Linked DNA regions of Homo sapiens. The protein of the gene in region 1 purifies or fractionates together with the protein of each later gene. This does not show direct contact. Each region holds a gene or a part of one and is shown on either strand. Other genes may lie near its edges.

The links.
Region 2: the proteins of MAP7D2 (region 1) and FMR1 purify together in Homo sapiens (pull-down; one large-scale study listed by IntAct). This does not show direct contact.
Region 3: the proteins of MAP7D2 (region 1) and STX8 purify together in Homo sapiens (affinity purification with mass spectrometry; 2 studies listed by BioGRID and IntAct, with this or other methods). This does not show direct contact.
Region 4: the proteins of MAP7D2 (region 1) and CLINT1 purify together in Homo sapiens (affinity purification with mass spectrometry; 2 studies listed by BioGRID and IntAct, with this or other methods). This does not show direct contact.
Region 5: the proteins of MAP7D2 (region 1) and KIF5B purify together in Homo sapiens (affinity purification with mass spectrometry; 2 studies listed by BioGRID and IntAct, with this or other methods). This does not show direct contact.

The regions. Positions count from the first base shown.
Region 1 is NC_000023.11:20,024,489-20,030,977, forward strand, and holds part of MAP7D2 (MAP7 domain-containing protein 2), read right to left. Parts: intron 1,465-6,489; coding exon 1,193-1,464; intron 596-1,192; coding exon 463-595; intron 1-462. UniProt on the Homo sapiens protein: Microtubule-stabilizing protein that plays a role in the control of cell motility and neurite outgrowth via direct binding to the microtubule. Acts as a critical cofactor for kinesin transport.
Region 2 is NC_000023.11:147,942,682-147,948,555, reverse strand, and holds part of FMR1 (fragile X messenger ribonucleoprotein 1), read right to left. Parts: intron 5,426-5,874; coding exon 5,230-5,425; intron 3,688-5,229; coding exon 3,505-3,687; intron 3,023-3,504; coding exon 2,940-3,022; intron 1-2,939.
Region 3 is NC_000017.11:9,546,716-9,553,204, reverse strand, and holds part of STX8 (syntaxin-8), read left to right. Parts: intron 1-6,489. UniProt on the Homo sapiens protein: Vesicle trafficking protein that functions in the early secretory pathway, possibly by mediating retrograde transport from cis-Golgi membranes to the ER.
Region 4 is NC_000005.10:157,798,849-157,805,337, forward strand, and holds part of CLINT1 (clathrin interactor 1), read right to left. Parts: intron 4,872-6,489; coding exon 4,802-4,871; intron 1-4,801. UniProt on the Homo sapiens protein: Binds to membranes enriched in phosphatidylinositol 4,5-bisphosphate (PtdIns(4,5)P2). May have a role in transport via clathrin-coated vesicles from the trans-Golgi network to endosomes. Stimulates clathrin assembly.
Region 5 is NC_000010.11:32,045,305-32,051,793, forward strand, and holds part of KIF5B (kinesin-1 heavy chain), read right to left. Parts: intron 5,220-6,489; exon of another isoform or gene 5,006-5,219; intron 3,248-5,005; coding exon 3,160-3,247; intron 1-3,159. UniProt on the Homo sapiens protein: Microtubule-dependent motor required for normal distribution of mitochondria and lysosomes. Can induce formation of neurite-like membrane protrusions in non-neuronal cells in a ZFYVE27-dependent manner.

The DNA.
Region 1 (6,489 bases):
TCAACCCTCCCCTCTGTCTCTCACTTTGGGGTGTGAGTTAGGATAATTTGACGGAGGAAACAATTTGGAAATCAGAATCAAGACCAAAACCAGAATCTTGAACCTCTTGTTTTCCCAGGGAGAATCTCATTTTTTAAACAAAGTTCAGACTTCCCTGATAGCTCTAGGAGGCCTGCCTGGCCCCAAAGTCCAAGAGGAGAATGGGAAGATGCCTGTGCCATTTAGATCCAAGAGCTATGAGTTTCCAGGTCCTCCGAAAAGAACAAAGTTCCATTGTTATTAATAATTACATCTAATATAAGACTCAGTCTCCTGAACACCTTCCATGTAGTTCAGACATTCTAGGTTCCCATACTTCTGTTCAAGTTTTATCAATACCAACGCTGTAAAAAGAAAGGCAAGCTGCTCTTTCCAACACAACAGTTACATGAGATCACACCGAAATTCTGAGCACTAGCATACCTATCTTGTTCTTCCTTCTCCAGTCGTTCTTGCTCCTCCTGTTCCTTCTGCAGCCGGGCCTGTCTTCTCTTTTCAGCCAAGATCTTCGCAGCCTCTCCTGCATCAGTGGTGCCTGCTGTGGGCTTCCCCAAGGCTGCACCAGAGGAGAGGCATCAAGAGGAAAAGATCAAGGGAAACGAATATAATGATTCCACTCACACAGCAGCTGCCAGTTGGAAGTGAAAAAAAATCCAACCCAGTGTGGTGATGGGAAATGCCGTCCAGACTAGCACAATCGACCACCAAGCAAGAGAAGCTGTCATGGGCTGGCTGGAACCCTGGACGCATTTTACAGTGGAAGACAATAGAAACATGAGGAGGAAAGACAAGGTCACTAGCAAGTGCCACAGCAGCCACCATCTGGGTGAACTCACTGCATCATAGAAGCCTGAAAGTCTAAAGGAAGATCTTCTTTTGCGTGAGGTGCAGATGCAGGCCTGTTTTACTCAGCATCCCCGTGAGCTTCCACAGCCATGAGTGGAGTCAGCCTCTAGATTTCCTCCAGGGGACCCTCAGAAGACTGAAGGAAAGAACTCAGGAGCAACGTGCAAACCCAAGAAAGCTGCACGAGGGGATGCACTTGTCCCCAGAGAAAAATCCCTTTCCCTCCCCAAAACATGAGAGAATGGCACGTGGATTGGGTCTGAGGAGAACCGTCTTGGGAAAGCCAAGGCACGGTGGCAGCATCTACCTGCGCTGTTTTCGGCTTTCCCTCCTGCGGCAGCAGCATGCTTCTCGCTGGCATGCTTGTCCACTACATGCTTCTCTAGGGCTTCCTCTCCTTGCGGGCCAGCAGCCTGCTGAGCCAAGGTACCTTCCCTTTCCTTGTTGCTCTTCTCTTTCTCCGCTTTCCTCTTGGGCATGTCTTGGCCAGAAAGGGCAGGTAAGCGGTACTTCACAGGAGACCCTGGGTAGGGAGGTTTCGTTGTCTTTGGAGACTGTGGATAAGCTTTAGTAGCTGTCCTGGAAAACAAAAAATATGCCAGAGGATGATTACTGGGCCTGAACACAGAGCTCTCTGTTCCTAAGACACCTAGTTCCAACAAGCTGAACAATTTCATCCTTCCAGAGGAAGGAAAATAGGGCTTAGCACACACTCAAAAGTCACTAAAGTGCTCTCAGCCCAACAGGAATATACGGTCTCTCTAAGACGGCCCTGGTGGAAAGGGAAACATTTTAAGAAGCCCAGCTGATGATGCCATGTCCTAATCTCACTTAGGTTTCATGACAATGTAAAGATGGAGTATTAGGCACTTCCCTACTCCCTCTTTTTAGGTGAACATCAGGGTTGAATCTGGTTTCAGCATATGGCAATGAACATGCTGGCTCCTTTTAAAAAAATTGTGACAAAACATATATAACACCAAATTTACCATTTTAACCATTTTTAAGTGTACAGTTCAGTGGCGTTCAACTCTCCATTCCCCTCCCCTCAGCCCCTGGCAATCACCCTTCTACTTCCTGTCTCTGTGAATGTGCCTCTTCCAGGTGACTCGTATAAATGGAATGACACAGTATTTGTCCTTTTATGTCTGGCTTATTTTACTTAGCAAGTCTTCAAGGTTCCCCATTTCTTTTTAAATGCCAAGGAACACAGCCAAGAGATGGGGATGGGGGGTGTTTTTTGGAGGGTCTCAGGTTTAAAAGAATCTCTCTTCTCCCAACTGGGCAGATGCAAAAGGTGAGGACAAGCCACTTGGTTAAAACACAGGAGCTCGTCTTATGTCTGCTGGGAAAGGGTCCGTTACAGGTACGCCAGCCTAGGCTGGGCTCCTGGTGAGTGCTGCTTGTTCAGGACAGGGGTAACAGCTTAGCTTGAGATGCCCAGTTTCCCTAGAGGTTTGAACAGGGATGTGGGCATTTGTACAGAGTTCCTCTAGGAAGGATATAAAGTAATGTATACAGAAATTACAAGTCATCACCCTCAATCCTCAGCAGGTTGAACCATGAATTGCTAATATCTGACTTTTTTGATCTATAAAAACAGCAATAAAAATGGCAAATCACCCTGATATTCAAAGACGATTTTTCACCAGAGGCTTAGAGTTACCAAATCAGATCCTGCTAATAAGGGGAAATATGATCAGATCAATATTAAACTTGGTCTTGAAGGAGAAAAGAATCCTCAAGTGGCATGTGGACTTTCATATTGGCCAAGTGGCTTCCCTGTGTCCTCATGCCATTAGGCCTGGAGCAACTCAGAACTCCCAAGACACCTTGTCTTTGTGGATGGTGCTTCGACTCTCTGCAGACTATTCTCCCCTCTGGCCTTGGGCTCAGGCCCCACACTCGGGTTCTCCTAAGGGATGTGGTTTTTCAGAGTGCTTAGCAATCAGGTGGTTTTTTCCAGGTACACTATATAACGCTGATCTTCTATTTTTTCCTAGACTTTTACCAAATAAAAGCCATGCAGAGAATCCCCCTGCCCCGCCATACATATACGCCCGCAGAGCAGGCTTCCTCAACCTGGCATCACTGACATTTGGGGCTGGATAGTGCTTTGTTGTGGGGTTGTCCTGGGCACTGTGGGATGTTTAGCAGCATCCCTGGCCTCCATTCACTAGATGCCAGCAGCAGTCCGCTCCCCACGCAGGTTATGACAACCAAAAATGCCTTCAGACATTGCTAAACGTCCCCTTAGGGACAAGATCTCCCTCAACTGAGAATCCCTGAGACATGGGGTAGGGCGGGGAGGGAGAGAGGGAGAGAGAAAGAGAGGGAGAGAGGGAGAGAGAAAGAGAGGGAGAGAGGGAGAGAGAAGGCGGGGGGAGAGAGAGAGAGAGAGAGAGAGAGAGAGAGAGACAGAGACAGACAGAGACAGAGACAGATGCACACACACTCTGTCTGTACCCAGTAGGTAAGAGTGGAGCTGTTCTGCTTGGAGGGGTAGTGTCCAATCCCCATGGTGACCTTGAGGCTCCTGAGAGCCTTGGCTTGAGAGGTAATGTGTGAGTGCCTCTACGATTCAGCACGTTGAGTCCTCATGTGTTCTGACACAGTCAGACCAGGTCCTTACCCTGGCCATTTGGAGCTCAGACCTCCATTCACACTCTCTGCAGTTGTGTCCATGTTTACTGAGTGCTGTCTACACACCAGCCACTAGGCTGCTAAATGTCTACAGACACATATTTGTGTACATATGTGTGTAAATGGTATGACACAGGTACTATTATCATGGCCTCTTTACAGATGAGAAAACTAGGCTTAGAGAGGTGAAATGGCTTCCCACAGTGAACTAAGCCACAGAGCCTTCTTACAGCTCTGCTCTACTTCCTGTGTTGCCAGCGCAGCTAAGTCTGAGTTTGGGGTCACCAAGACCCCAAGATGTTCTTTATAGAACTGGCATAGAGTAGGCACTCAATAGCTGTTAGGTATTGGTGTTGATCAATTAGATGATAAACTAAAAATCCAAATAATCCTCACAGACAAGAATGAACCAAAACCAGGAAGATGAACTGTAATAACAGGGGAGCCCATGTCCTGCTTGCTCACACTGACAGTGCTCCATTGAGCATGGTTTTCCAATGAGTTACACAATGTGTACTAACTGTACACATTAGCTGAGCCTGCATTTAGTCTCAGTTAATATGTATAAAGATACAGCTGGTGGTCTTTTGCTTGGCCACGTCTTCCTTTCACGCTGTTATCTAAGGTGAGTGGCGCCCACAGTAGAGCTGTATACCCGCCACCCAACCACCACGAGGGTGTCTCAAAAGACTTGGTCTAGTGCCTTGCCAAGATCAAAGCACATTATCTCTCCACTGGATTGTCACGTGAATGATATGTGTCCTTTGATCCAACAACAGTACAAGGGCAGGGAGTGGATTTGAAACTTGGCGATAGAGGCTGTAGGAAAGACTATCTCGTGGTAGATGATAACAGATGGAAACACTTTCTCATCCCATAAGCATTCCTACCTTGACCTGTTGAGGAGGACTTTCTGGCATTGGAAGGCCTGGCAAATCTCACCTGATCTTCTTGCTTGCCCTCACCCTCCTCCCCGTGGAATGAGGTACGATTTCTCTGATTGGTGAGAATGAGCAAAGCTGCTGGGTGTGCACAACCCTGCCTGTTCTTGTTCTCTCCCTGGAACTGGCCTGCGAGCCCACACTCTGGGCTTCTCTAAGCAGTATAGAAAGAGTTGGGCTCTGCTTCGGGGGTCCCTGAAGTGTGCTGGCACTTCTGCCCATGAATGGGTAGGCAGACAAGAAGCCTTCCTGCAGACATGACTCCGACCACAAGGGTCTCCAGGGCTGGACTGGGGGGAGTGGGTGGGAGGCCTGAACTGGCTGCAGCCTCAGCAGCCATAGCCAGCATCTGAGTTCCAGCACAACCTCTGTGTCTGCTTAAATGGCTCACACACTCAGTCAGTGTGGCAGGAGCCTGTTGGCTATGTCAGACCCATCTAAGTAAATGGAAATGCAGGACAAGATCCTAATCCTAGGGAGAAAAGGCCAGGGTGGCCTAGGTGGGGGAGGTTCTGACAGCCTCAAGTTGGCATAGCCCTGAACAGCCTTGCTTGTTTTAAGAGAATGGTCACATGTAGGTTCAGTTCACGCCACAGACTGCGAGGTTCCATTCTAAATAAAACTGGACCAATTACCCATGAGCACACATTTAAAAATAACTTCTACCTGAGAAGTAAGGGTGGATTCTTTGGGATAAAGCTCATTAAGAAGTCTGTTTACAGTCCCCGACCCCAGCCCCTGCCCAATAAACAGAGTAAGTTAGAAAACACACACACTTGTATGCACACACAAACATGACCTTCAAATTAGAAAAGTGTGGGCAAGTCATAGATTTTTTTTTTTTTTACAGTGAGTGAACAAAATACAGAATTAAAAAAAAGAAGTTCCCAATGTTATCTACAATCTGTCAAGTTTCCTGCTCATCCTGCTTTGCCACTTGCTTACATGGACTTTGTACCCTGTCAGCTGCCCTGCAAAAGTGCTAAGCACAGGTATCCGGAAGAAACTAAACCACAAGGCTGGTATGTCAGACTGCACGGCTCTCTGGCCAGCCCTGCTCACATTGCTGAAAGCCAAAGAAAGTCTGGCAAGCTATTTTTCAATTTCCTGGAAATAGGTATTTTGGCTGATTTAAGAAATATGAATTAATTAGGGGAACTCACTGTGCTTGTATGGAGGTTTATTCTGAAGTACCTTCTCATCTATTTAACAAGGGTCTATTTGATTGCCACAGTAATCCAGTGAGGTACGTAGGAAATTGCTATTAACCATATTTTACAGAAGAAAACCAAAGTCCTAAGAGTTTAAACAACCTTTCCCAAAGAAATGCAAACAGACAAGAGTACCAGGGCTGGCACTCAAGGCATTTGTTCATTGTCTCACTTTTTTAGCTCTTCCACTTTAATTTTTTAAGGTCCAATAAAAATATAACAAAGGGGATTCACAAGGTGTGTTTAGGATGGTAAACTAGACCTTCTAGGAACATAAGGCAGTATGATATAACCTTTTAGGTTCCATGACTGGCAGAAAATACGAACAAACACCTCTGTAAACACAGTGGCAAGAATAACTCTCTGGAGAGGGTTGTCATGCCTCTGAATGTGAGTTGACTGCAAAGTGGAACCCCCAAAAGACTTTTTTCCTCCAATCTTGGAATCTAGTTCCATGTTCTCCAAAACCACTTGACTCCATGCACAGTGAGTGAACACGGCCCACTCACTGCATGGGAGGGGTCTTGGCTTCATCAGCACAGCTCAGCCAACATTCAGAAAAGTTTGTTACTTCCTAGATAAGAAAGAGCAGCAGTTTTATACCGGAGAAACCTGGGAACACCACCTTAATCCAGTAATCAAAGTTAATATCACCAGTAATTAAACAAACTGACATCATAGCCTCCTGATAAGAGGTACTGAGAAGGACCCAACACCTCTGCCACGAGATTCCTGCCCAAAGAACACAACCTGAATGCAATCAGAGGAAACGTCAGGCCTATCCAAACTGAAGGCAGTCCTCAAGACGA
Region 2 (5,874 bases), about 130 Mb from region 1:
AAGAAGTGCAAGAAATTAATGTAAGGTAGGATTCTTTATTTGGTTTATGATTTTAAAACACTCTTCTTCTTTAACTGGAACACACTGGTCATCTCACTGCATCCAAAGTTAGAGAAAAACTCACAATCCTATCATGTCTTCTTCTAAGTAGAATAAAACAGTGAGAAACAAACAGGTAAAATGAATTACTATTACTGATTACCAGAAGACATACATGCCTCTAACACTAGAGTTAAAATAAAATTAGTTATTCTCCAAAGATTGTGAAGCCCAGGAAAAGAGAAACAAAATGTTTTCCTATTCTGGCTTTACCCTCAAATAACTCACTAACTAGACTTTAATTTACATCTTTATATCTATCACAGGTATGATCAAGTTTCTCTATACTGAGAGCTCCCATAGTCATACAGTAGAAAAACACGAGCTTTGGTTTCTACTGGCTTGTATTTCACTAAGAAAATTCAGATGATCCTACAACCTGAACTCTGTCTGAAGAATGGAACAGTATAAAGAAAACTGCATATAATAATTTGTGGAAGGACTGGAATCCTAGGAGAGTATAAAGATCAATGTAATTTAAAAAATAGTGTTCTAAGAGCTATAAAATATTTTAAGTGCCAATGCTGAATACAGCACTGCTAATTCCAGAGGTACAAATGAAAGTTAACAGTGACAAATGGAACTAAAACAACTACAAATATTGATCTACTTCAAGCACAAATGCTAAAAACATCCCCAAATGGTTGTAATTTCAAAGTATGTTTAAGTAGTGGGTATGTGCATGTGTTTTAAATGTCTCGTTACCAAGGATTCAGTACTTTGATTTGTATCTTTTTTTTTTTTTTTCCCAGACAGTCTCGCTCTGTCGCCCAGGCTGGAGTGCAGTGGCGCGATCTTGGCTCACTGCAAGCTCCGCCTCCCAGGTTCACGCCATCCTCCTGCCTCAGCCTCCTGAGTAGCTGGGACTATAGGTGCCCGCCACCATGCCCGGCTAATTTTTTGTATTTTTAGTAGAGATGGGGTTTCACCATGTTAGCCAGGATGGTCTCGATCTCCTGACCTTGTGATCCACCCGCCTTGGCCTCCCAAAGTGCTGGGATTACAGGCGTGCGCCACCGTGCCTGGCCCTTTTTTTTTTTTTTTGAGATGGTGTTTTGCTCTTGTTGCTCAGGCTGGAGTGCAATGGCAAGATCTTGGCTCACTGCAACCTCTGCCACCTGGGTTCAAGCGATTCTCCTGCCTCAGCCTCCCGAGTAGCTGAGATTACAGGTGCCCGCCAACACGTCTGGCTAATTTTTTGTATTTTTAGTAGAAATGGGGTTTCACCATGTTAGCCAGGCTGGTCTCGAACTCCTGACCTCAGGTGATCTGACCACCTTGGCCTCCCAAAGCGCTGGGACTACAGGCGTGAGCACCGCGCCTGGCCAGATTTGTATCTATTTTCATACTTAATAGAGAAAACATCACCTTTTAAATTCAGTATTCCATTTCATTTAGAAATATAAATGTGCATCCTTTTAACCAATGCAGTTAGACTGCCAAGTTCATCAAACATATCAGTTTAAGTGGAAAATTACAAAACGGGTACTTAAATATCTTATAGCTTTGTAAAAGACAGGTACATACAGTAATTTACCAATCTATCTATCCCTTGGACATGCTGGTCCTTAAGAACCCACCAATAGTTAACACTTACTTTGAGCTGCTATGAATTCCAAGAAATATTCCATCATAAACTTTGTCTTAAAAAGTATCTCTCACTAATCTTGGGTGATGGTCCCAAATGAATCCATAGTCAGGAAGGAACCCTAACTACTTAATAATTAAAAGTTACAGAAAAAGTAGACGACAACATAGATTCAGAGAATCAGACACTAAGGTTTGACTATCATTTGGACATATGCTAGCTATGTGACTGTGGGCAAAGGACTGAAGCTACAGTGCACTCACCTATAAAGTGGAATAATAAAACTACCTCAGTGGGTTGCTGTAAGATTAAATGAGATAAAACATACACAAAGCACTTAGCAAAGGTGCCTGGATGTGCTCAGGAGATAATTTTAAAATTATTTAACAATTGGTTTAGCACTGGTGACAGCCAATTGAGAAGAGATCCTCGGACTAGGTCCTGGCTGTAAATAAGCAGATGACTGACCAAGCATGGAGACTAGCTGAATATCATCAGCTCTGTCTATCATGATTATTAGTTGTAAGACAGACACCTTCTTTTCCTTATTTTCTATTCAAAGAGAATACCCTATCCCTGTTAATTTGGGGGAGCAAAGACACATAAGGTTTACTGAGGTCTCTAAGTACATCCCAGGATGTTCCTTCTCTGGGGGATTGCAGGTCTACCAATGTGGTATTAAAATCATAGTGTGGCTGGGCACAGTGCTCACGCCTGTAATCCCAGCACACTGGGAGGCCAAGGTGGGCAGATCACCTGAGGTTGGGAGTTCAAGACCAGCCTGACCAACATGGTGAAACCCCGTCTCTACTAAAAATACAAAAATTAGCTGGGCATGGTAGTGGATGCCTGTAATTCCAGCTACTCAGGAGGCTGAGGCAGGAGAATCACTTGAACCCGGGAGGCAGAGGTTGCTCTGAGCCGAGATTGCGCCATTGCACTCCAGCCTGGGCAACAAAAGCGAAACTCCCGTCTCAAAAAAATAAAAATAAATAATAAATAATAAAATCATAGTGTGGCTGTCAAGGTCTTCACAAATACTCAGACTGCATATTCTCTAGAGAAATCCTCTTATTTGTATACTTGTCACAAAGAACTAAGATTGACTACAATTGTAATGTTGAAGGTAAAATATTTCACATAAACTGGATTTGTAATCTTTGAACATGTTTTTAATAAAGTAAAATAAACTCATAAATCTCAAACTACCATATTCAAACAATTAAGATGAAAAGAGGCAGACAGGTTTTACCTGAAGGGATCCATCTGTTGTTCTTCCTTTAGCCTCTCTTGGATTACGTGGACGATTATCTGTTCGGGAGTGATCGTCGTTTCCTATGAGAATATTTTCAAAAGGTTCAACAGTTACTGATTCTGAAATGCTTACTGGAAGTTCTTTATTCCCACACCCTCTATTTAAACCAACCACAGAATCTGAAATGTAATCAATACCCCAGTGATTCCAGTTACACAATGGCTAATAATCTAGCCTGCTGCTAAGTAACAGAAAATATTTCACAGTTATTATAATTCTGCATCTACAGGTCAATGTGAGTTAATGAAGGGATGCTGTTTAGACCCACCAAGATGCTGAATTAGTTATCAGCATTTATTCATATATCTGTATGAACCATAAGGAAGGCTGCCTAATATTCTTTCTTTCTACACAAGTGGAAGGCTGATCCTTTCCTATGGTATCAGCACAAAACGGGAGAGATGGGATCTTGGTAACAGTTCATTGCATCAATAGGATTTCTCATGGAACTTCAAGACAGCTGTTACAATTCACTTTGATTTCTTAATGAAGATCTCCATACCTTTGAAGCCTCCTCCACGTCCTCTTCCTCCTTGTCCTCTTCCTCCCCCTCCACGCCGCCGTCCGTCTCCTCTGCGCAGGAAGCTCTCCCTCTCTTCCTCTGTTGGAGCTAATGACCAATCACTGAGTTCGTCTCTGTGGTCAGATTCTGTTTCAGAAGCATTTGATGCTTCAGAATTAGTTCCTATCGAGAGTTAAAAGTTATATACCATTGTCTGACTTTAAAAAAAAAAAAAAGAGGGTTAACAGAAGCTTCCAGAGACGTTTCAGGGGTAATCCAAAACTCTTCCCAATTTATAAGCCCACAAAGAGTATTATCACTTTCCATTTCATAAAACAAAATTTTAAACTCAAAATGAAGGGCTTTGCAATATTTGAGGTTAATTTTGGTTATAAACATGTTTCATTCTCATTTTTAAAAAGGTATGTTATTAGCCACCTAAGTTCAAACCTTGATGTGCCATATCATTAAATAGCTGTGTTCCTTTAAACATCTATACTCTCTGGAGGAAAAGATTATCCACGACAGTTAAGTGTGATACCCTGATAAACAAAACCTCTAAAAAGAGAGCTCCTTTTAGCAAGATTTGGCCCAGGACAGAGGGGAATGTATATATTTTGGTCATTTCTGAGAGGGTGGCAAAGGAGGCCACCATGGCAACTGCTTCAGGGAAGGGTCTCTTGTGGGTCATGGATTGGATCTAGCTGAAGGCAGATACATGCTTGCCTGATGTTTGGTCCACAACCTGCCCTCCCACTCCCATTACAATAATTGATCATTAATAAAGAATTACTATAATAAATTCATTATGCCTGAAGGGGTTAACGACTTAGAGGACAGGAGCGGAGAAAAAGAGCTCCACGGTGAGGCAGAAATTCATGAGTAAAAAGAACAGACTGTTGGGAGAGGGGTTAGGGGTTAGGTTCAAGGTTGGCCTTAGGAGTAGGTAACTCTCCCCAACTCCAGAATATCAGCTCTACTACCTCTCTCTTCCTCTGTTGGAGCTAATGACCAATTATAGCTTCACCATTATAGCTTCATTCCTGTGGATCTTGAAGGCTTTTCCATCTTAAAGAGTTCCTTTTTGAAATGCAAATATGCGTGAAATGGATTATACCTTATACCATCATTAGCAAGTTACAAAGGAGATACACTGTTGAGCAAGAAAGACAGTAGGCACTGGCAGGTGGGGATCAGGTTCACTGAAAGGTACTGGGAGAGAAGAAAGAAGCACGGACAGAAAAGCTGGGAAGGCAAAGAGAAACTTCGCCTACTTCTTGACTGTGCCTAGGGCTGACTTTGGCCATGTCACTCAAAATCACCTTATGAGCCACAAGAGGCAGACCCCTGATTTACACAGTCCATCCAGCAAGTATGACCAGCACATACCTGACAAAATAAAAATGAGCCACAGTACACAAATGAAAAAAGTTTTGACTATACAGTTATAAAATCAGGAGAGGCCTTAAGAAAATCATCAACACACAAGGGCTTTGCAGATTTACCCCCAATCAGAGCATGAACAGAACTTGCACCGGCCCTGTGAACTCTACGTGTTTATCATCAGGTTTTTACTCTATGTCTCCTGTAACACAATTTAACCCACTGTGAATTGGAAACCATGTAGCGGCAAATTGTTATAATGGGGTTCTAATGAATATTAGAGATTAGCAGCTATAAGTCTAGGAACAGATAAAGTTACTGAGTAAAATGCTTAGTTTGTACCTGAAGTATATCCAGGACCGCGTCTGCCGTGCCCCCTATTTCTGTAAGGTCTACTACCTCGACCCATTCCTTGACCATCATCAGTCACATAGCTTTTTTCCTTATCTGTACGATTTGGTGGTGGTCTAGAACTAGCTCCAATCTGTCGCAACTGCTCATCAATTTGTAATCTCTCCAAACGCAACTGGTCTACTTCCTATTTAAAATATACAAGATAACAGTAAAAATAATTTGACATTTTACTTAATAAAACCTTTCTCCTTTTCATCAGATAAAAATATACTGGAATATTTCAATTTCAGTTCTAAATTTACAGTAAACACTGTTACACAGAATTATCAGGAAATTGAATGATCTCCTTAAAAAGAAAATTACTACAGATAACAGATTATTGATGTCAAGAATTAGAGATATAACAAAAACACTCAGCAGTAAAATTATACTGAATAAAATTTAAAGTTGTCTAATTTGGCACTATTATCCAATTATTCTACTGCTAAGGCACAGATATGCTATTTTGGGGACTTCTTCATGATAGGATATTAAATAAAACATGCTAAAATGTATGAATATAGATAAATGACATTCAAGGTATAACCAGCTAACCTTAAAAATCACACATTGTAAATAATCTTGATTAAAATA
Region 3 (6,489 bases), on another chromosome or scaffold:
CTATAATTGTCTTACCAGCTGAGAAGAGGGTTATGCTGTGGGAGGCTGCATATGAAATTCCAGATAGTACTAAAGATACTTAGTACCATCTTCTTAGAGTTGGCTTCACATGAAACTTATCCTTTTGTTGGCATTTCACAGGAGGCAGCACCTTTACTTATTTTAAAGAGAATAAAGAAAATCTCTTTACAGAGGGGTTTGATGTCAAAAAGTACTTTGGTGTCTTGGGAGAAGGCCTTTGGAAATAAGTTTTAAAAATCTATAAATAAATTTTCTCATCCCAGGCACTTTGGGAGGCCGAGGCGTGCGGATCACGAGGTCAGGAGATCGAGACCATCCTGGCTAACATGGTGAAACCCCGTCTCTACTAAAAATACAAAAAAAATTAGCCGGGCGTGGTGGCGGGCGCCTGTAGTCCCAGCTACTCGGGAGGCTGAGGCAGGAGAATGGCGTGAACCCGGGATGCGGAGCTTGCAGTGAGCCGAGATCGCGCCACTGCACTCCAGTCTGGGCAAAAGAGCGAGACTCCGTCTCAAAAAAAAAAAAAAAAGAAAAATCTATAAATAAATTTTCTCTACTCTATTTTTTGGAAAAACAAAGATAGGTAAGTAGATAGATAAGTGCATAGACAGATGTGGTGATTACTACATAACAAACCCCAATGGATGTGGTTGTGGAGAGGCTGACTGAACAGATTTTACAGGTAACCCCTGGTAGCTACAGTGGAGGTGAAGTGGTTTTCAAACACTGTCCCTGTCTATTGGTTTTCACTGATACTTGGTAACATGAGAAAAATAAGAAGAAGATAGTGTTTGTGTAGCAGAAGTTTTTTGATTTATAAGAACTTTTTTTCTGACTTTTTAAAGACAGGATCTCACTGTGTTGCCTAGGATGGGGGGCAGTGGCAAAATCCTAGCTCAGTGCAGCCTCAAATTCCTGGCCTCAAGAGATCCTCCTGCCTCAGCCTCCCAAGTAGCTAGGGGTCCAGGTGTATGCCACCATGCCCAGCTAATTTTTTGTAGAGATGGGGTCTCGCCATGTTGCCCAGGCTGGTCTCGAACTTCTAGTCTCAAGCGATCCTCCACCTTGGCCTGCAAAATGTTTGGATTACTGGTGTGAGCCACCATATCAAGCCTGTTTTCTGATTTATACAGAACTGTTACATGGTTCTTTCTAGTTTTTGGTGTTAAAATCTCCTTGCTTTTTCACCATGATAGTAAAAGTAGATAGTTTTGTTTCTTTTTTTTTTTCTTGAACATCCATACCTGGCAAAATGTATAATTGGTAATTCTATATAAGTTACACCCCCCCCTAGTTTTTTTGGACATATTACTGGTCCACGAAACCTGAATGTCTAGGTGCCATTGGTATCGTGGGAACAACATCGGCTCTGAAAGCAGACAGAACTGAGATTGAAGACCAGCTCTGCCACTTACCAAGGCCAAACAGCAGTTCAGCTTTTCTGGACCTTAGTTTCATTATCTGTAATGTAGGAATAATCATACTTTGCCAGGTTATTGTACAAGTTGAAGAAAATCTTTTTTCTTCACAGGACTAGCCCCCCATAATGGTGGGTGTTGAATAAAAGGTGGTTACCAACACCCCTGGGGAAGTTACTTAACCTCTTTGTGCCTCATTTGTGGAATGGGATGCTAGAAGTCCACCTGGCGTAAAGGATTGTTGTGTAAGGATGAGATTATATGCATACAGGGTGCTTCACATATACTAAGTCCTCCTTGAGGATTAGCTGCTATTGATTATTTTATCATTATTGTAAAGATTTCAGCTACCATTGAGAATTTACAGGTCATCCTTTCTTTGTGGAGTTTTTAATCATGCATGATGGTTATGTCAAAACTCACAAACAATGATGGTATTAAAATAGTACTTGCAAAATGTGATCAGTGCTTTGAGGAAGGTAAGGACTTGGCCTGGTACATCATAAATATTTATTAGAGTTTGTTGACTTAAAAAAAGAAAGCCAGAAAAGTCTTTTGACCTCTAGAACCTTAAACTGTTCCCTTGCAGTTCTTCTTTTTTGGCATGGAGAATTAATTATCTGCAAACTTCTTCCTTCGCCAGAGCAGCTCTTTCACAAAATAAGGCTTACCTAAATTCTATTTTTTTTTGAGACGGAGTTTCACTCTTGTTGCCCAGTCTGGAGCACAATGGTGCGATCTCAGCTCACTGCAACCACCGCCTCACAGGTTCAAGCGATTCTCCTACCCCAGCCTCCCAAGTACCTGGGATTACAGGTGTGCACCACTACACCTGGCTAATTTTTGTGTTTTTGGTAGAGATGGGGTTTTGCCATGTTGGCCAGGCTGGTCTCAAACTCCTGACCTCAGGTGATTCACCCACCTCAACATCCCAAAGTGCTGGGATTACAGGTGTGAGCGACTGTGCCCAGCCTAAATTCTTAAGCCTTCTACCAAATATAAGAGAAAATCCAGGAGCTGGAGTGGGATTGGGTGACCTGTGGATCCAGTTGCATATTTACCCCGCTCCATCTGTGGTTCAAATGCTCACCAGGCTACAGCAGAGAAGCTGGACTTATGCATGCTGGTAGTAGGTATCAGTAATATGAAATCAGGATCCAGTTTTATTTTTATTTTTATTTATTTATTTTTTGAGATGGAGTCTCGCTGTGTCACCCAGGCTCGAGTGCAGTGGCACGATCTTGGCTCACTGCAAGCTCCACCTCCCGGGTTCACGCCATTCTCCTGCCTTAGCCTCCCGAGTAGCTGGGACTACAGGGGATCCAGTTTTATTTACAACCTTACATATCCATGAATTGGCTATAATTACATGTACAATCAGCATAGCCAAGGACAAAGTACTATGATAGTTAGCTCTTCTCTTCCTTTTCTTTATCTGTCTGTTCTCTTATCTTCTTCCTTGGCTATTCACCAGGTTGGTGGAAGAGGAGGTTCCCCAGCACTGGCCACTGACTGTGTGCTGTACTACTTTTTTTTTTTTTTGAGATGGAGTCTCACTTTGTTGCCCAGGCTGGAGTGCAGTGGCACGATCTTGGCTCACTGCAACCTCTGCCTCCCGGGTTCCAGCGATTCTCCTGCCTCAGCCTCCTGAGTAGCTGGGACTACAGGCGTGTGCCACCACACCCAGCTAATTTTTGTATTTTTTTAGTACAGATGGGGTTTCACCGTGTTGTCCAGGCTGGTCTCGAACTCCTGACCTCATGATCCGCCTGCCTCAGCCTTCCAAAGTGCTGGGATTACAGGCTTGAGCCACCGCGCTTGGCCTGTGTGTCCTACTTTCTACTTGTCCTTAGCATCACTCAGGCACACTGTTTCCCCACTACCCTACTTTACCCAACTGCTACGCACCTGTCCACATACATGCTGTATAGATTGTTTCCTGGATGATCCTTTGACCTCTTACTAATAACAACCCTTACATAGCAAGGGTGCTATGCAGATGGTTCATTAATCAATTTATTCTCATTCCATCTCCCTCCTCCCCATCTCCTTATGCTCTGTTCTCTCCGTAGATTAAAATATAAAACAAAGAGGCAGCATGTTCCTAATTGGATTGTTTTCCAGATTTACAGAGTCTCTGGGAATATTCTGAATTCGTACTCCCAGTATTGTTTTTATCAGGATTCTAAGAAGTGGCAAAGTTAAGTCAGCATCTCAAGGTGGAGAAGTCTGCAGAATGTTTGGTGGAAAAGCCATGAGCTAGGGTTGAAAGAGCTGTCACCTAGCATGGCTGTTAACCCAGGCAAGTGACTTAGCCATGCTCACCCTTAATTTCTGGTCAGCAAAACAAGAGAACTGGGATCTTTAAGGCCTCTTCTAGCATCAACTGTGTGGGTTTCTGTTCTTTGGTTACTCATCTACAAAACATAGTCATCAAGTTTTACTGTTTCTGAAACTGATGTTCTTTGTTAGCTCCTTCTTGACGTAAGTTTAAATCTGTAACTAGTATCTGCTGATTTTAAAATGTACCTTTATTGTTTTTATTACAAAAAATATTATACTTTCTACTGATACATTTCTCATTAGTTATTACCAATGACTCCTCTTTCTCTTCCTTATTCTATCCTGTCTCATCTCATTCTTTATAGTTAAGTGTTAATGGTTGGTAGCTAGTATCTCAGACTTTTCTAGGCTTGAAATATATGCATATGTAAACATAAAATTCCTTTGACTATAAAGGGATTATATTATACATATGGTTCTGAAGCTTGTGTTTTTATTAATTAGCAGATGATAGAGACAAACATTAGGAAACAATATTCAGTGAAACATCAGTCTCTCTTATACCCTTAATCCTCAGTTGTCCTTCCTTAGAGGCAATGTTTATATATCAGAAATTTTCTGTGTGTATATACACACATATATAGTTAGGATTTTTTTTTAACAAAGTGGGAGCACACTACTCACTGTTTAGCTCCTTGCTGCTGCTGTTTTTTTCCCCTCCTTTGGTTTAATGTTATATTTTGTAGATTATTCCATGTCAAATAATTCATGTAAACACTTAGTAAGTGCTCAAAAATGTTAATTATCATTATCAGCCCCCTAAACAGCTTTCCTATTCTTTTTTTAAGGCTGCAAAACATTCCATTGTTTACATACACTAGTTACTTATTGATATTTCCAATGTGGCTATTATAAATAATGGTTCAGTGGACATCCTTGCTTCTAAGTCCTTGTAGGACTGTATCTGAGGAAGAAATGTCTGTTGAAAGACTGTACCTTTTATATTTTGTTAGGTATTTAGAAGGCAGTCTAGCAGTTGGTTGAACCTGTTTGCATTCCTATCAAGAATGTATGAGGTGGCCGGGTATGGTGGCTCATGCCTGTAATCCCAGCACTTTGGGAGGCCGAGGTGGGTGGATCACTTGAGGTCAGGAGTTCGAGACCAGCCTGGACAACATGGTGAAACCCCATCTCTACTGAAAACACAAAAATTAGCTGGGCATGGTGGCATGTGCATGTAATCCCAGCTACTTGGGAGGCTGAGGCAGGAGAATTGCTTAAACTCTGGAGCTGGAGGTTGCAGTGAGCCAAGATCATGCCACTGCACTCCAGGCTGGGCGACAGAGGGAGACACTGTCTCAAAAAATAATAATAATAATAAAGAAAGAATGTATAAGGTCAGGTGAAGTGGCTCATGCTTGTAATCCCAGCACTTTGGGAGGCAGGAGGGTCACTTTAGATTAGGAGTTTGAGACCAGCCTGGCCAACATGGTGAAATCCTGTCTCTCAAAAAAACCCACAAAAATTAGCTGGGTGTGGTGGTGGACACCTGTAATCCCTGCTACTTGGGGAGCTGAGAGGAGAATTGCTTGAACCCAGGTAGTGGAGGTTGCAGTGAGCCAAGGTTGCAACACTGCATTTCAGCCTGGGATGATAGAGCAAGACTCCATCTTAACAAAACAAAACAAAAAAAAAAAAAAGAAAAGAAAAGAAAAGGAAAGAATGTATGAGAGTGTCTGGTTCCTTGTCCCTTTCCAAAACTGTCTTCTCAGTTTCCTAATCTGATAGGTGGAAGTGGTATCTTGTTTTAGTGTGTATTTCTTTTCTTTTCTTTTCTTTTTTCTTTTTTTTTTTTGAGACGGAGTCTTGCTCTGTCACCCAGGCTGGAGTGCAGTGGCACAGTCTCGGCTCACTGCAACCTCCGCCTCCCGGGTTCAAGTGATTCTCCTGCCTCAGCCTCCTGCGTAGCTGCGATTGTGCGCCACCATGCCCAGCTAATTTTTGTGTTTTTAGTAGAGATGGGGTTTCACCATATTGGTCAGGCTGGTCTCGAACTCCTGACCTCGTGATCCACCTGCCTTGACCTGCTGGGATTACAGGCGTAAGCCACCACACCTGGCCAGATATATTTTAAAAGTGTTTGTTAGCTTTCTCCACTCATTCATTTTATGGCAGAAGTTGTTTCCAAACATATCCTTTACTGTGTTTCTTTTTTCTTTTTTTTTTTTTTTTTTTTGAGACAGAGTCTCGCTCTTTCACCAGGCTGGAGCGCAGTGGCGCGATCTCGGCTCACTGCAACCTCCGCCTCCCGGGTTCAAGCGATTTTCCTGCCTCAGCCTCCCGAGTAGCTGGGACTACAGGCGCACGCCACCACGCCTGGCTAGTTTTTATATTTTTAGTAGAGACGGGGTTTTACCGTGTTTGCCAGGATGGTTTCCATCTCTTGACCTTGTGATCCGCCCACTTCAGCCTCCCAGAGTGCTGGGATTACAGGCGTTGAGCCACCGCGTCCAGCCCTTCTGTGTTTCTTAACATACCACACACATAGACACAGTTCAGCCTAAAAACAAACAAACAAAAACTTGTGTCTGGGCGCACTGGCTCACACCTGTAATCCCAGCACTTTGGGAGGCTGAGGTGAACGGATCATGAGGTCAAGAGATCGAGACCATCCTGGCCAACATGGTGAAAACCTGTCTCTACCAAAAATACAAAAAATTAGCTGCGCGTGGTGGCACGTGCCTGTAGTCCCAGCTACTCAGGAGGC
Region 4 (6,489 bases), on another chromosome or scaffold:
TTAACTGGCTAAATTATAATATAGCCACCCAATGTAAGATTATAAAGCAATGAAAAGTACTATAAAAGAATACCAACTATCATAAGAAAATGGTCATGAGATCTTAGGTGAAAAGCAGTTTATCAAAATATATAAATAAATGACTAAAACCCAGAAAAACCCAAACAAATGAAAAGTCATATCTAAAAGCCTGAAAAAGATCTGCCACATAATAAATGCTTAAATAACTACATTAATGGAATATGTAGAAAATGTATTTTAAAAAGATATTCACCAGATTAATACTTTATGTGTCTAAATTATGGTAAATCACTTGTTTTCCACCAAATTGAATGTGCATTACTTTTAATAATCAGTGAAAAAGAGAATATACTGAAAAAATTTTATTTTCAGTAAACTTAGTTTAAAACTGGAGACAACCCCTACCCAAATGATAAGTTAGTGTACTAAGAATGGAACAAGGTGAGTATTTACATGTTCATGTAAATGTCTTCAACTAACTAGCGATTACTGGGTACAAAGCAGCAGGTTCAAATGTAAATGTAATACACATTTCGGATTTGATATACCTTAATCCTTTTAAATGTTTCTTTTTAACTTAAAAACATTCAAAATATATTGCAAGTCATTTAAGTTCTATCTGTATTGATTATGCTGAATTTTCTCAACCTTATTTATTGTACTAGAAATATCTAGTTTAACAGTATGTTAATCAAGACCTAAATTTCTTAATTACAAAGGGACAAAAGAGACAAGTTGGACTTCTTTTTAAAGAGGTGAGATAAACTAAAAAAAGAAATGGGACAGTTTTTGGCATTCTATTTCTAATTGGCTTATTTTCTAAATATAGTCACACATTTCTCAATGACAGAATGCATTGGGGCATTAGGCAATTTTGTCATTGTGCAAACATCATAGAGGGTACTTACACAAACCTAGTTAGCCTACTACATACCTAGGCTATAAGGTATAGCCTATTACTCCTTGACTTCAAATCTGTACATCATGTCACTATACTGGATACTGTAGGCAACTGTAACACAATAGAAAGTGTTTGTATATCTAAACATAAGAAAGGTACGGTAGAAATATAGTATTGTATATGGGACCATGGTCACATACTATGCAGTCCATGACTGTACTTTAAATTATTTTTCATTTCTTAAAATGTTTACTTAGAAATGTACTTTATGTAAAAGCAACTGAAACACCATGTGAGTACAGGTTTTAAAAGAATATCACCACAAGGGGACATTTTATTAAGATATGAGATAGTCTCAAGTAAATCCTGATAGTTAGGTTTTACATATATATTTTTAAACTTGGTAAGATATTCTACAATGATTTTACCATATATACTTTTGAGAATGCTAAGAACATGTAATCACACACACACAAAAATCTGAACATTTTCTCAGAGGATATATTTAGCTGGTGAGTGGTACAGATGCCATATCTGCTTAGCTTTACAGTTTGTGCCCACATTACTTGCATGATGGTACTATTATAAATATGGGCACATCTGGTAAATGACACCCAAATGACATACCAAATAGCAATGTTAATATGGTAGATTCTTATACCTTCTCGTGTAAGTGCTAAAGATTTAATGCCCAATTTCCTTTCACTGCTGAATTCAATTTAAAATATATTATTAAAATATTTAAATAGAGATTGGGAGTAACTAAATTTATGTACTGATTGAAGAGGGAGCTGCACAAACTGGTTAAACATACGGTTTCAAATAGGAGATAACTTTAATTTTAAAAAATTCTTCTAATATCAATCTCTATTAGTTGCTTTTTATTAAGATAAAATAAAATTTAAGGCAAGAAACCTCCTAGATTTCATTCAAACTTTCTCAGTTACTATATTAATATCAATTGCTACTTCTATTTAATTAGTCAAACTACTGTTTGCACTGGAGAAGACAAACCACTCAAAGGTTCCTTGCCAAGTAAAGGAAGCATGTTGGTATTTAATAAATCTCTCTGTTCAAAGCAATCTTGATGTCACAGAGGAAAAGTTACATCCACCCATCTGACCTTCCTAGTTAATTCTTCTCTGATTGCTCCATTAAAACTTTTCACAGATGCATGAAAGGGGCCCTTTAAATATTTCATGCCAGGAAGTCCAAAATAGTTGATATTCTGTGACACTATATCTGTATTATATGACTACATGCTAACTACCAGTTAATTCTACAGTTCAAATCTTAAACATATAAAAATATATCACATAAATTGTTACACAACTAATGTAGCTGTCCGTAACCTTGGGCATTACAGTCCAATCAAGTTTAATGAATAATTTTAGGAACAGTTTGCAGTTACAGAAAAACGGGAAAGGGAATTGAAGAATTTCAGAAAGTAGGCTGGCCAGGCATGGTGGCTCACGCCTGTAATCCCAGCACTTTGGGAGGCCAAAACAGGTGGATCACCTGAGGTCAGGAGTTTGAGACCAAGCTGGCCAACATGGAGAAACCCTGTCTCTACTAAAAATACAAAAATCAGCCGGGCGTGGTGGCGCATGCCTGAAATTCCAGCTACTCAGGAGACTGAGGCAGGAGAATCGCTTGAACCCGGGAGGCAGAGGTTGCAGTGAGTCAAGACTGTGTACTGCACTCCAGCCTGGGCAACAAGGGCGAAACTCTGTCTCAAAAAAAAAAATAGAGAAAGAAAGTAGGTCAAACCAGATGTCTGGGCTGGGTGCAGTGGCTCACACCTGTAATCCCAGCACTTCGGGAGGCTGAGGCAGGCAGATCACCTGAGGTCAGGAGTTCGAGACCAGCCTGGCCAACACAGTGAAACTCCGTCTCTACTAAATATACAAAAATTAGCCAGGCATGGTGGCAGGTGACTGTAATCCCAGCTACTCGAGAAGCTTAGGCAAGAGAATTGCTTGAATAAAGTTCATGCCTAATCCAAGAATTTTAACATAGTAGGTAAGGAGGAGGAAATAATAGGGGGCTTTATATTACATTAATTATACTAAACTATCAGTGAAAAGTAATTTCCAGCATAGACTTACACTTAAAGGTTAAGTTAAAGTTTTTTTTTTTTTGAGACAAGAGTCTTGCTCTGTCACTCCAGCTGGAGTGTAGTGGCATGATCTCAGCTCATTGCAAACTCCACCTCCTGGGTTCAAGCGATTCTCCTGCCTTAGTCTCCTGAGTAGCGGGGATTAAAGGTGCCCATCACCACGCCAAACTAATTTTTGTAGTTTTAGTAGAGACAGGGTTTCACCATGTTGGCCATGCTGGTCTTGAACTCCTGACCTCAGGTGATCCGCCTGCCTCGGCCTCCCAAAGTGCTGGGATTACAGGTGTGAGCCACTGTGCACAGCCACAATTCGGCTTTGAAAAATCATTACACACAACTGGGAATAATAAATTTACTTTGCACATTAGTCATACCCCCATCTTACTGTCTACATTTTAATGTGAAATGAACTTAGGCTTGGAAAGACTGTCTTTAAACAGAAGATGTATTTGTTAAACTATTTTGACACGTCACACAATAGTTTATTAAAACTCCATAATCATCAAATACAACCCTAAAAATATCAATTTTCTTGAAAACAATTGATCAGAAATTACTCAAAATCTAGCACATACTGGAAATCAAACTGAAGAAATCATCAATCTCATCTATGAGAAATTCAAGGTAAACAGTTCTTTTGCTGTAGCCCTCTCTTTTTTTTTTTTTTTTCCGAGATGGAGTTTTTCACTGTTGTTGCCCAGGCTGGAGTGCAATGGCGCAATCTCCGTTCACTGCAACCTCCGCCTCCCGGGTTCAAGTGATTCTCCTGCCTCAGCCTCCCGAGTAGCTGGGATTACAGGTACCTGCCACCATACCCGGCTAATTTTTGTATTTTCAGTAGAGACAGGGTATCACCATGTTGGCCAGGCTGGTCTCGAACTCCTGATCTCAGGTGATCCACCTCCCTCGGCCTCCCAAAGTGCTGGGATTACAGGGGTCAGCCACCACGCCCAGCCGCCCTCTTTAAATATGTTTGGTAGTTACATACTTTCAGAGAATGTCATTCCTCTGACTGAAGCACTTGCCATTGTTTATCACTAGATAACTATTTGTGACTCTGATTAATGATTATTTTCTCCACTTGACCTTCGCATGAGGACAACAACTCTGTTTTTTACAAGCACCCAGATCAGTGTCTGGTTCAACAAATATTTGTTCAATTAAAAGAATAAAAAGTTAAATGATCTCTAGGCATGCCCAAGGTGACAGCTGCAATTAAAATTTAGGGAAAGACAGTAAAATGCGCAGAGCAGTACCTTTTGCTTATAAAGAAAGTAAAGGCAACAGTTTAAATGCAATTTTTTGTTTCTCCAAGTTAATCTTAAAAATTAAAAATGGAAACTATAGATTCCAAAATCTATGATGAAAAATTTCAGAAAGTACATGATGCCTTGAAATACTATTTATTATTAATTAGGGAAGACACAGTACATCAGGTATGAGGAGTCATTAAAATCTAAGTATGATAATGATTTGAGGATACTATTATTAACCACCAATAAGTACTGACCACAAACAAAGTTTTGCTAGTCTGAGGGTGGGTCAGAAAAAGGTATAAAATAGGGATAGAGAAATGGGTGTACATATAAAAAGATAAGCAAAAATAACACAATGATTCCAAATAATGCTCAAGACTCACTAATTTCATATAAAAAATGAACCCAATGCAAATAAGTAATCTTATTTTTCAATCTATCTTTTATTTGGCATTTTAAAAAATGACTCTCAAACCAAAAGAAAAGGCCAATGTAGAAGCTTACCTGTTGACTGGCTGGTGCCATCAAACAGATCAACAAGGTCACCAGATGACTTGCTGCTAGGCACTGAAGTCTGAAAACACACACATAACTCAGGAGCTTCGAAAAGTTTGTTTTTCTAAAAATCAGCTCTATCCATCTCTAATTCTCAATTTAGACATAAATACCTGTAATTAGCTTAATAAGGGTAGGGTTTTCTGGAAAAAGAGTACTGACCTTGAATCCTTATGGAGAGGCAGCAAGCACTTTTAAGTACCTCCATTCCCAGCAGTGTAAAAGTCTCTTAACATTGACACTTTTTTTCCTACCTCACTTTTCTGACTGCATTTCACTCTGGAAAATATTAACTGCCAGATCCCACTTGAATCTTAATGCTAAGTATCAGTTCATTAAAAAAAAAAAAAAAAAAAAATACCCTAGCATATGTACCAGTCCCATACAATACACTGAGTCATAATTGCCCAGGTATAAAAAGGCCAAGACCTTGGCCTGTTAAAGTCTTACAAGAAAGCTCCCTAGATAATTCCAAGGCTTGAGATCCACTGGATTAGAGGTCAAGATCCTAAACAGCTCTAAATTTCTATGAACCTTAGCAAAACTTATTGTTTGTATATCACACAAGTTAGTATAATTCTATGTTATTTGATATATTGATATGTTTCATATTTAGTTCCCCAACTAAACTGAGGCCTATACCTGTAATACTATTTTTATCTTCTCCACAAAGCTAAGCACCCTGATACCTAAATACCTATGTCCTATATGTTAGATATATACATGCTAAATTAGAACTCAATTATTAGGCAATGGGGAAACCCTAAGATCCTAGGCATGTTGATTTGAACTTTGAAAACTAAAATACTATATACTGTGATTCCAAAACACCTTTAAGAACAGATCCAAATGAGTTGGGTAACTTTCTAAGAACTTCAACCTTCTAGACATTTTTTTTGAGGGGAGGAGGGTAAATGAAAACAAAAAAGAAAAAGCTTGTACTGCCGGGCGCGGTGGCTCAAGCCTGTAATCCCAACACTTTGGGAGGCCGAAGCAGGTGGATCACTTGAGGTCGGGAGTTCGAGACTAGCCTGACCAACATGGAGAAAGCCCGTCTCTACTAAAAATACAAAAAAATTAGCCGGGCATGGTGGTGCATGCCTGTAATCTCAGCTACTCGGGAGGCTGAGGCAGGAGAATCACTTGAACCTGGGAAGCAGAGGTTGCGGTGAGCCAAGATCGCGCCATTGCACTCTAGCCTGGGCAACAAGAGCGAAACTCGGTCTTCCAAAAAAAGAAAAAGAAAAAGAAAAAGCTTGTACTACAAATATAAAATATTTATTGCAGAGTGTCATATATTCAGGCTATACTACAAACTGTTATTTAAAATCCTTTAAGATATGTGATAAAAGTCTCTATTATTAAAAAAATTATACAGATATTTGGCAAAAGCTGACATGGTATTTGTTATTGCAACTAAGCAGGCCTGGTTTTATTTTCAGAGTCACCTACAATCTGCTGCATACATTAGAAAACTGTTTTTCCCAGCTTTTAGCTATTTCTCTTGCAAAGACACAAACTGGGGAAACAGTAGTCGGGGAAAGTGACAAAAACAATAATTTAGTCTTTTGAGGCAAATCTCCCTATTTGGCAGATTTCTGTTGAAAAGACTAGGGTTTGGCCAGGTACCTAGCAGG
Region 5 (6,489 bases), on another chromosome or scaffold:
CAGAAAAAAAATAATGAATGAATGAACCTGCATTGCTTAGGAAAGACCAGAAAATATTAACTGATGATATTAAAACAGAGGTACTTCTATTTACTACCATCTTCCACAAATATGATCCTCAAAACAGAACAACAGAATAAACATTGTTGAAAGGGACTTTAAGGTTTATGTGGATAGTACGATAGCAAAAGAATGGCTTCAAATGAGCCCAAGTTTCTAGTTACTAAGGAGGATTACGTTCCAGGGATAAAAATCTCACAGCTACTGTAGGTTACTTTTAAAAGCCAAAGAGAACAAAGGTAATAGAAGACACTAATGTTATTTACATTTTCAAAATGGGAAAAGGGATAGATTATGGAAATAAGTATACCAAAATTTTATTAAGTAAAGACTATGGTTGAACTAACCTCATTTCCTGTTTGGATATGGTTATTCAACTGGTACTTTGGGCAAATACTAGAGTCATGCACCATCACTTGATAAAAGGATTCAAGTTTTTCATCATTTTCTTGTGAGTATGTTGACAAACTAAGGACTAGCCAATCGTATAGGTAAGAGGCTCTGAAGTTGGCTGAATACCCAAACAGTGTGATTGAAATAACTGCCAACAATCTTATTCATTTTAGAAGATTAACCTAGGGACCATGACCCATTAAGCACTTTATAAATGGTTTAGAATCATATTTTTCAAACTTCAAAACCTTTGACACTTTAATAGACTTATCAAATGTGCTGACAGCCAACTTACTAGATCCCCAGTATAAAACTCAAAATATGATTAAGAGCTAAAATGAACAAAATGGAATCTGCACTTTAAAGGTTTGCTCTCCAAAGTGCAAGTATGGAATGGGGCTTAAAGCTGGCGGCAAGAGATACAAAAAAGACCTGTATATTCAAATTGCCCATGAATTCATGAATCGGTAACTTTCTATTGGTTAGAAAGCTAATGTAATCTTAAACTGTACTGATGAGACAGAAGTATGTCTCAATCAAAGAATGTAGTAAAATTGTGTTCTATGATCGATCCCTCTGGAAAACCACATGATGCTTACAACATGATGACCCTGTTCCTCTTTGTTGCAGTCATTTACACAATTACAAGTGTTAATTCCCCTTCATTTTATGAAGATGTCAGTACCCAGTTCACTCTCTCTCACCAATACCATTACTGTTGTAATAAAACAGTACTGGTGGTTTCAAAGTCTGTAGCAGATAATCCCACTAAAATAACCTGGCCTCTCAGCTCCTTGACCAAATTTTCTGCGATCTTATTCTTTCTTCATTTTTATTTTAAAAACAGAGATGGGGTCTCGCTGTTGCCCAGGCTGGTCTCAAACTCCTGGCCTCAAGCAATCCTCCCACCTCAGCCTCCCAAAGTGCTGGAATTACAGGTGTGACCCACCATGTCTGGCCTTATCCTTTCTTTACTACCTCGGAAGTCAACTCCATGACAACACCTTTACCTTTTCATTACTAACTGCATTGCTTCCATAATCTCAATTTCAAGTAGAGATACTAATCAACTTACGATGGGGTTACTTCCTGATAAATGTTCTGTAAGTTGAAAATACCCTAAGCTGAAAATGCATCAAACACATCTAACCTACCAAACACCATGGCTTAGCCTAGCCTACTTTAAATGTGCTCAGAACACGTACACTGATCTACAGTTCAGCAAAACCATCTAACACAAAGCCTATTTTATAATAAAGTGTTAAATATTTCATATGATTTATTGAATACTATACTGAAAGTGAAAAACAGAATGGTTGTACAGGTACTAGAAATATTTCTATTGAATATTTCTATTGAATGTGTATTGCTTTTGCACCATCGTAAAGTCGAACAATTTTAAGTTGTTCTAAGTCAGGGACTGTCTGTATTCACCTTCTATTACTCCGTCCAGTACCCTGATTCCAACAAATCTTTGACCCCACTGAGATCTACAACCCACTAATGTTACCACCTTTTTTCACTGCCCTTCAGCCTCCCTCATATCCTTCTTCCTGTAACTTAACCACCTTAGATCCCATGGTCCACCATTATAATCACTCCTTTGACTATATCCTCAATTCTCTTGTCCCCCACTTCCCTCTTTTGTACTCACCTAGCAAAACTCCAAATGGGCAAAAATTCAACTCTTTCAGCAGCTAACCTTGAGTGGGCCCTTAATACTGCCTGGCAATACTCTCACACTGCCTGAATCCATCCATTTCATGCCTTTTCCTAGAACCTCTTCCCCCTTCCTCATCTCCATGATGACTTTGCTCCCTGTATTAGACAATATGAAATTGATATAATGAGTACATACACATTTTCCCTCCCTCACCTCATCTATAAACCTTCTATAACTCCACTTTATCTCCTGTTACTAGGATGAGCATCTGTGCTCCTATGCTATCCTAATCCACCTATTTTTATACTGAATCCCAATTCTTTTAATGTGGTGAATGCCACAACACAGATTTTGCCTCAATCTAAGAAGCACTTTGTAACAACTACAGCTGTCAAAAAATGAAATAAATCATATCACAAAGTAACAGCCATTCCTTTGATTAAACAGATTTCTACAGTAACTGGAAGTAACTCCAGATAAACAATGAGCACTCTCTCAGCTTTAAAATTCAATGGTTTTAGAATATATAAAGTTATAAATATTCTTGTATAAGTTATAGTATTAACTGGAATGTACATACTTTTCTCACCCTTGGCAACCCTTGTTAAATTCCTCAAGGGATAGGTAAGTCTTTGGGGAAGGAATAACAATGGAATGGAAGAATGATAGACTGCCATTTTCCACTACTTTTTAGAAATGTGTCTAGCCCTTTTGTTTTCATTCTCATACTGTTCTCTTTCTAGAACTGCCACCTTGGAAACTCTCCTGGGAATATCTAACAGAAATGCATCTCTTAAGAATAAGTGTGTAACATAGTTCTCATAATAACCTTAATTAGGTACTGTATATAATTAGATCATGGAATTTGAGCAATAGAATATTTACTAATTGTGTTTGACCTTTTTATTATTTAAACAACTTTCTTCTGCAATTAACTTAGAAGAAAGGGGCATTAAAATGAAAAAAGGAAGCTGAGTAAGTAGAAAAGATCACAAACTTATTTACTTATTGCTGAGACAACTCAGCAGGTTGAATATATTTACCTTTAACAATCTTCTTTGCACAGTCATTATACACTTGCTCTTGAGATGTGCTTGACTGGAACACCCGATCAAATGCATAAGGCTTGGACTGAAAAACAAAAAAGTGTTTCAACTATACAAATTAAAGGTAAATGAACATTTCTAACCTTTACAGATGCCATCATATAATATATTTAATCCTCAAAATAGTATACCTAGTATGCATAATTTGGTATCATTGAATCTTTGAAGTAGAAGGGATCACCATGCACAAATCCATTAGAATAAACTCCAGGAAAACAAGAATGGTCTTTAGTCTTTGCTGCATTCCCAGGGCCCAGTAATTACAATTATAATTCCCAGTAATTATAATTAGCACTACTATGGCAGCCAAATATTGCTGAGTGATTTTTATTTTTTTAAATACCTATTTATTTATTTTTGAGACAGGGTCTCGGTTCTGTCACCCAGGCTGGAGTGCAGTGGCACAATCACTGCTTACTGCAGCCTCAACCTCCTGGGCTCAAGAAATCCTCCCACCTTAGCCTCCTGAGCAGCTGGGACTAGAGGCATGTGCCACCATGCTATGTTGCCCAGGCTTGTCTTGAACTTCTGGGCTCAAGAGATCCTCCTGCCTCAGCCTCCCCAAGTGCTCGGATTACAGGTGTGAACCACCATGCCTGTCCTGCAACAGCTTTTCAACCATTCTTTCATTTAACAAATACTTATGGAATGTGAGATGACATGCTAGAATGATAACCAAGAGATTCCCTCTCTGCTTTAGTGGAGCATAAATAATAGTGGGGCAGACATTAAAAAATTAAGTGACCAGAATTCTGACTCATGCAATTGAGTGCTATGAAAGTGCAATGAGAGAATATAGGAGGAGAACCTAAGTCTACGGGAAAGCAGAATATCACGGAAACACCCTTGGAGAAAGAATATTTAAGAACTGAAAAATACGCAGCAACTAACTCATCATCACTCTCCCCAGTATTAGTCATGAAGGGTGAAAAAGGTTTCGTGTAGGAAAGTAGTCTAGGCACTGGGAGGATACTTAAAGATCCTAAGGCAGAAAGAACAGTGTAGCATTCAAGAAACCAATGGAAGTTGTTAAGTTGAAGTACAAGGAGCAAGGATCAAATGCAAATATCAAAACGGTTAAAAAGACATCATCTTATTCTGAAAACAGCTTTGATCTTCTGGACCCCAGAAATGATACTGGGGACTCCATGGACCACTCTCAGAGAACCACTAATATAGTCTGAGAAGGAGCCAGGGGTATTGAACAAAAAAAAAAAATCAGTGGTGTCCATGCAAGTCAAAAAATAATAATTTTCAAGGAGGGAGTGATTATGTCAAATACAGTTGTGAGGCCAAGACAAAACTAAAAAGTACTCAATGACAAAGGTCAGATTGGAATGGATTGAAAAAGAATGGGAGGTAACCAAGTGGTGCAGAAAATCTGCTGTATGTCTAAGAAAGTTATTTTTTTTTTAAGACTTGTAAGACCTGAGGTAGTTTAAATGCTTGCAGGAACAATTTTAATAATCTAGGAGAAAGAGTAGGTATCCAAAAATAAGAGGCAAGGGGTTCTAGGTATTTGCAAGTATCTGCCTGCTCTCTAGTTTCTCCTAAAGGAAAGGAAGGAAGTTGGGCCCTAAAACACAAAACAATCATGACCCCAGAAAAAGCCCTTAACATTAGAAAACACTTCCTAAGTCTTAGCTGAAAAAGACCTACTACCCTCCACATCCCCACTTCAAAGTCTGAAATAAAAGTAACAATGAACCAGACACTCCTAAAGCCATTCCCAATTCCCCTTTCCCTTGCTACCTCCCAATAAATAGGCCGGAAAGCCAAATACCTGTTAGCCTAGTCTCCCTGCAACTAGTAGTCACATGACCAAGCTCTGAATAATATGAAGTGGCGGTCTGTTCGAGGTCTCTGAGAAGGGTGTTGTTATCCTGATAAAAAGGACCATCTCAGCTAAAACTGCCCTTTCTCCTTCCTGGAATGAATGCCTGGAGCTGTAGCATCCATCTTGCAAATACGACAAACAGGATGATGAAAAGCAACAGCTAAGGACGACAAAGTATAACAGAGTGAGGAACCGTGAAGGGCCTATATCCAGGCTTTTTGTTATGTGAGAAAAACATCCTCTTATTTATTTAAGCCACTATTAGCTGTTGGTTTTTCCTCTAAAGCTGAAAGCATTACTGACAGATACAAGAAGCTGATCTCACTTTGGCATCAATTTAAAATAGGCATCGATGTCTGATTATTCTTTAGTTGTGACATATGTGAACGTATCCTTTTCTCAGATGCTACTGAAACAATTAACATTCAATTCTACAGGTGTGACTAAAAGAAATCTATTATTTTACTGCTGACACAAGATATATTCATGGTGAACAATTCTGAAAACAAACGTTAAGTACAATCAAAATAACAATCGCCACCCAAAAACAAACCATACTAATAGTTTTTTCTATGCAAAAAGAAAGTAATTTTCCCTCATTTATCCAGCAGACATTCATTTAGTGACTATAAAGATATGAGATATTGTAGATGAGTAACACAATTTTAGAAATAATTAGTACAGACTGTAGGGTTCAAAGAGTAATAGAGGATAAGGCCAGATAAAAACCTGAATACTAAGTTAAGTTATACACTTGGATCTAATATAAGTGATCAAGTAATGTCAAGAGAATTTTATATGTATCTACAAATATACTCCTGAGTAGCTGGGACCACAGGCATGTGCCACCACGCCTGGCTAATTTTTGTATTTTTAGTAGAGATGAGGTTTTGCCATGTTGGCCAGGCTGGTCTCAAACTCCTGACCTCCAGTGATCCACCTGCCTCAGCCTCCCAAAGTGCTGGGATTACAGGCGTGATCCACCATGCCTGGCCTCAATTTTTACATCAATAGAAAATAGTGCCCCTAAACCATTTACCAAGAGATATGCCAGAAATAATGTAAACAGCTTCATAATAGTAAACAGTTTTAATAGTAAAGCCTGCCTTCAGAAGTACTTTATGAAGCTGCTTACTCTAGTTATCAACTCCAAGCAAATATATAAACTACCACTACAACCTTACTAAAATAATATAAATGGCAACTATTAAAAGGTAACACACAAACATAAAAATAATTGAGACTGGAGTGATTATCTTTCTAGAAGTTATTGTTAAATAAAAATTAAGTGCTTAGCATTAAGTTGACAAAACAGTCTTATCTTGATTGCAAAACCAAATGATGATTTTGTAATACTAAGTAAGGCAAATGTTTTAATTAAAGATCTAGCCATAAATTACTGACTCTGGCTTCCTGGAATGAAAATCAAG